2 separate regions of the Homo sapiens genome follow, and region 1 is linked to region 2. The links come from fine-mapping of genetic effects on gene expression. A gene starts in region 2. The other region holds a variant in brackets. All regions are shown on one strand. Distances are from middle to middle. Region 1 overlaps LRCH1 (leucine rich repeats and calponin homology domain containing 1). Region 2 holds the start of LRCH1 (leucine rich repeats and calponin homology domain containing 1).

Evidence for each region. PIP is the estimated chance that this variant, and not a neighbour inherited with it, causes the effect. A credible set is the group of variants that fine-mapping cannot tell apart.
Region 1: its variant is the best candidate, but not a certain one, in a credible set for the expression of LRCH1 in whole blood (GTEx, PIP 0.85).

What each region holds. Positions count from the first base shown.
Region 1 is chr13:46,594,300-46,597,205 of GRCh38, reverse strand. All of the region lies in intron 1 of LRCH1 (leucine rich repeats and calponin homology domain containing 1), which reads right to left. Among named protein-coding and RNA genes, the nearest start is that of LRCH1, 43 kb to the right of the region's middle. RefSeq lists a silencer at 1,770-1,819. The variant A/G (reference allele first, on the strand shown) is at 1,223.
Region 2 is chr13:46,551,958-46,554,863 of GRCh38, reverse strand. It overlaps LRCH1 (leucine rich repeats and calponin homology domain containing 1), which reads right to left and starts at 1,694. Exons shown (of 20, transcript NM_001164211.2): 1 at 1,161-1,694. The coding sequence starts at 1,467. RefSeq lists enhancers at 561-880, 537-1,237 and silencers at 1,441-1,500, 1,561-1,750.

The DNA.
Region 1 (2,906 bases), 42 kb before region 2:
GTCACCTTGTTCAACCTCCACCGGGTACGTGTACCTTGAGCTACTCAAATTTTTTTGCTGCTCTGTACATATCCACCAATGACCACAAAGAGTCCTCACGGATGGATTTGGGGCTTACAAATACATTTTAGCAAGTAGGCCAATTTCACAGATACAGAATTCTCAAAGATTGAGGATCGACTGTATTAACCCATTTGGGAATTTTCTTAGACCTAAACTTAGAGTAATAGATAGGAAGTCTATTCAAACCTTTCTGGGGGAAACTTTTAAAAGGTCACTTGAAAATTCAAGGGCTCTGAGCTACATACATAGAGCACTAGTTACTATCTTCCTGGGGTGGTGAAAATGTCCTCTTCACTCCCCCAAATTCAGCAGGCAAAATGCTGGGCAAATGATCGATTGCCATGGACCTAGCCATGTTGACTACCAGCATCTACCACCTGCGTAACTTTGCGTGACTTTGATCCAATCGCAAGCTGTTCCTCTACCCATGACGGGATTTCCCACAGTCTCCAGAAGGCACTTCCTGAAAATCATTCCCTTTGTCTATTCATGCCTTTAACATGTCATCTCAATGTAGCTTCAAGTTAGAATTCACTGACATTCTTTCATATTCTAACAAAGATGTCTCTGTTCCAAGATCGCTATTTCATTTCCAGATATATGCTAAGATAAAATTCAAAATTTAAAAAATGCCCAATTTTTCCAATTTGCTATTCATAGCAGCACCAAGTGTCTTAAATCATAAAAATGGAAACATCTGACAGACATACTGCAACTACAAGATCCTTATAAAGTAACACATGATTTTTTTTATCTCCCTGGAGAAGTAAAGATGCTTTGATTTATAGTCATGATCAGACTGTACCAAAACATGCTGCCTCCTTGAAGCAGGTAATATTTAGGGCTGCAATACAAGCTTTCCTCGGTGTTCATTAGGATCACAGTGTTTCTTCAGAGCTGCAGGAAACATTCAAAATTCACCAGCCCTTTATCTATTAGAAGAGATAAGCACTCAAGATGTGTTCCCAGGGAAAAAAACATTTTTGATCATGTCAACTCCCTCATCTATGATAACCATCCAAACCTCAGCTCCTCCTCCTTTCCTTTGAAACTAAAATAGGAAGCACTGGCATGAAAAACTTCTGCTTTTTAAAGTCTCAAAACTGGTTACTTGTATTTAAAAGCCTTTTTGCCTGTTTAAAACTAAAAACACTTTTAC[A/G]CCTTCATTAAAGTTATGACCGATGTGTTTAATTTTAAAGACATAGCTGCCATTCTTAATTACTTCCTCTACCTTTAACATCCCTGTCTTACATAAAATATTCAAAAAAAAAAAAACAATGTGAGGCCGTGCTTTGGATTCCATGTGGCCAATTTCACTCTGTGGCAGTTGCCAGCAGAACTCCACATCTAGAACAACCAGTATGTGCCTAAGGCCTTTCCTGTTCTTTTTGTTTCCTTGAGTTTATTCCTGTCAGGTGTAAGCACTCCAGAAATGTAGAATTATGACATAGGAACTCACACTGAGTCATAGCTGGAACTCATCTCTTCTGAGTTCACAATTAAAAACAAATGAAATCTAAAATTACATTGAAAACATAAAGGTAGATGGAAGTTTAAAGTGCAGATGTGGCTTCAGCCCCAGCTGGATATGCTCAGGGGGGAACAGATGTCAGTAATAAACCTAGGAGAGCTACAAAAGTTAGCTTATATCCATCACCAAGTGAAAATGCTGACGTACATATAAAACTGTGCCCTGCCTGCTTTCCTACCCAGTCTGAGTGTGCAATATGGAAACAGCCTGGAAAAGAACCCAGAAACCCTGTGGAGATGCAGAGCAGGTCTGCCACATCAGCGGTGAGGAAGTCACTTACTGCATGGTCGGGGTAGGCTAGCCATGCAGCACCATCAGGAAAGGTATGGTTTCTTCTAACACTTGGCACCTGGCCTATGCATCCTCTAAGTTCACCAAAGAAAGAAAACACATAATCTGCGGTTACATTCATTAAAGTCTGCCACAGGAGAATAGGGTTCTCGATGGGTATGGGGAGATGACAGAACAAAACTATAAATGACCAGGAATGGAATAAAATTAAACCTAAAGTGACCAGGGCAAAAAGCAAACCCCAGAATGATCATCATGGTATTAATAATTACATAAAGACTATAAACTCAGAAGAAGCTAGGAGAACACCCAGAGCCTGAAAGTTGGAGAAGGTTATAGCTGCCACACTCTTTAGATGAAGTTCATTTATGAGACTTTCTTTATATAGCCTGTATAGTTACATAAACTAGAGTCAATCAGGTTTTTCTAAACTGCGCTCTTGTTACTAGATCTTATTACAGTCTTCACATTTCAGAGCTAAATTAAAAAAACACACACATTTAGCCATATGTTTTCTATGGAAAGCACTAACCATACATTTGAAAATGAGGGTGACTTTCTTTTTTGTATTTTGCAGCCAGGATATTTTATTCACCAAAATTAAGCGAAGCAGTTCCTACTTATGAACTCATATGAACTAATTCAGCCCCGTCAAATCGAGAAACTTTAAATATTAAATTCTACTGTACAATCTCAGCTGGAAGTCATCTCTCTCTCCACCAACCTTCCAGGGCACTTGGCACCTATCCTATAATGCAAACATTCTGTGTAGCTCAAGGAGGTGGCCTGATTTGGTGCATTCAACAGTGGCTAGAGGTCTAAGCCTCTTTGCTTCTGCAGGGAGACAAAGAAAAATCATTTACTATTTTGCAAAGATCGCTTCATTGAATTTTCTTGGGGTCAATAGCCCTTAGCAGAAAACAAGTATTCCACACTTGTTCTATAAGGTTCTAGGAGGTTCTTACAAACCTCATCAGCAAGTAGTATTTTTTACATAACTTGCTATTAGCTTGGAAATTTA
Region 2 (2,906 bases):
GCCATGAGGCGATGACAGCCAAGAGGTCTGGGCAGCGGCTCCAAAACGGAGCACCCACTGCCCTGGGAAATGTTGGGCGCTTGCTATGACACAAACCCTCCCCCAGGGAGCGGAACCGGATGGCCGGAAACCAAGTCAGTTCTGTATAGACCCTAAGGCCCCAATCCTATTCCACCACCCTCCTTCCTGTTTATAGATCCCGCTCCTGGAACTCCAACTACCAAAGAGAAAGCAGACGTTTTAGAAGTATGTAACACATGACGTAACTTGAAAAAGTTATGCTGCTTATTGGCGCGAGTTACAACTTGCCGGGCTCACACAGGAAAACAGGCTCACGTTAATTACTTTGCCTTTAATATGCCACGCCGTCCTTTCCTGGGGCCCCCGCAACGGTTGGGTAACTGAGAACCAGGTAGCCTCGGTGGTAGGACCCAAACTGTGTGGGCGGTGAGCAAAAGGCACGGAAGGAAGAGGGCCGATCGCTTCCGAAGCGGCAGCCGACTGGGATTCACTACAAGCCCGGCGGCTCTTTTCCCGCACAAGCGCAGGGAGAGGAAACTTGGGCACCTCACAGGCGGCACCGAGTTGCCCGATCGCTCGGCGATGTCGCCGAGGGGGCTCGCGGCACTGCGCCGATGCCCCTGGCTCGGCCGAGGGCGTGCCACCTTTGTCTGGGTTTCCCCACCAGGATGGGCTACGCCTCGATGCAAAGACGGCTTGAACTGGTTGGAGGCGCCGACGCCGCTGTCCGCGCTGGAGTTCCCAGCCCTGCGCGGGGCCCAGGAAGCCGACACAGCCGCCTGAAACCTCCCACTTACACTGCGCGCACGCGGCGCGCCTGCAAGTCCCAGCCCCGCGGTTACTTCCCTGGCGCGGCAGCCACAGGGTGGAGAGCCGGAGACCCCTCGCTCTCAGGCGCAGAGGCCCGGCGCACCCCTGCCCTCCTGGCACTGCATCGCCGGACCAGGCAGGGCCCCCGTGCCCTCTCCAGGGCCCGCTTCTTCCGCGCCCACGCGAGTCCCTTCTTCGGGAGACAACGGGCCGATGGACCCTCCCTCCCCCAGCAAGACAAGATCTCCGACTGTCCACCGCGTTAGGGAACGCACGACAGACACCCAGACAGCACCCACACCCCTGCCCGCCCCTCGGCCCTCACTCACCTGCCTGCACCGTGTCCGAGAGGTCGTGCCCGGGGGCTGCGGTACGGGGAAATTCCTTCAATTTCCTGGCGCTCAGGTTCAGCCCCCCGGAGTTGGCCGCCTCCTCAAGCGCGCGCTCCAGACCCCGGTTCAAGGGCAGGTTGAAGCCCCCGCTGCCACCGCCGCCACCACCCGCCCCGCCGGGGGCGCCGGTTCCTCCGTGGTGCTGATGGTGGTGGTGGTGGTGGTGGGGATGATGAAGTGGGTGCAGAGTAGCTACCGAAAGGGCCGGGACGAAAGGTTGGGGTTCGCTTCCCGGCGTCGCCATCTTCTCCCGGGCCCCCCCACCCCGCCCCGCCGCTCCTGCGGGGGGGTCACAGCGTTCCCCGCGAGGGGAAAACGGCAGCTCGGGCTGAGTGCCGCAGTGCTCCACCGAAAGGCGCTGGAAGGAGGGGAGGAGGGTGTGGGCAGGCGCGTAGAATGGGGGGCGGGCGGGGAGGCGGCCGTGGCAGCTCGGTCTTGAAGGTTTCCTGTCCCCGGGAAGCTAAGGACTGCGGCGGCGGCGGCGGCGGCGGCAGCGCGCATGTGTCTCCTCCCGCCCCTGCGCCCTCCCCCCGGCTGCTCTGCCCTCCTCCGCCGTCTGCTCTCTCCTCCTCCTTCCCCCACGCAGTCTGCCCCGCCTGAGCCTTCCTCCGCGCCTATTCTGCCGGCCGCCGCCGCCTTGCCGCGATCCGCCCCGCAATCGGGTACACGGCGGGGCTGGACGTCTGCTCCGGGGCAACTGAGGCGCCGAACCTCTCTCTGGGCGTCCTTTTGCCGCCCAGGAGGCTTTAGGGGACTGGAGGTTGCGGGGATAGGGGGGTGGTCTGAGAACACGGATAAAACGGCGGGAGGCAATGAATGGGATTTACAGTACAGTGAGGTTTGGGGCAGGAGAGGGTTCTCTCAATTCTGCGATTTATTCTGGCCGTTTAACCCAGAGATCCCCAAGAGGCAGTTTTCATTCACTATGGGGTCATCCCTGCAGATGCCCCCTGGCATTTGGGCGCTTACAATGAACCAGACGCTTGTTTAGGGAGTCTACGTAAGTTACCTCATTAATCCAGGGACCCCAGGAGTGCCAAAGTTGTTCCCCTGAGTCTACAGAGGAAGTTAATAAATGTATCTAAGGTCACCCCTGCAGTTAGAGGGGCGCTAGATTCGAGCTAGGGCCCTCAGAATCTAGGGTTGCCCTCCTTCACAGTGTACCCCTGGGCCAGACGCCAGCGCCAAGGGACGAATACGAGTGGGACAGAGTGTTTGCTGAGCGGCAGAAGAAAGCTACAGACATAGGAAAGAAAAACTCAAAATGAGGGCAGTGTTTATGGGGGACAGAAGACATTGTCGTAGGAGAAAGATGAGCTGGCTGCTCCCCGAAATTGGGTGGTGCCAGGAGAGGCTAGAAAGCCAGTGACCCCAAACAGCAAATCAGTCACAGCTCGAGTCTGAGCTGAAAGAACCATCGAAGTCTCCTTGTGCCCTTCTTCTTCCCGCTTTGGGGCATGGAAACGAACATGTCCGCTTGCAAGTGAATTCACATTCTGCCATCAGCCACCCAGTGGCACCCAGGCCAATGCTGGCACACCAGGGGCGACAGAGAACATCTGACACCCTAAGGGCAGACCAGCTGGACGATTAATAGAATACCATTCCTTTCCTGAAGTTAAAGCTTCATGTCCAACTTTCCAGGGCCTTTATTTTTGCTCTATTCTTAAGGCTTGATTGTCC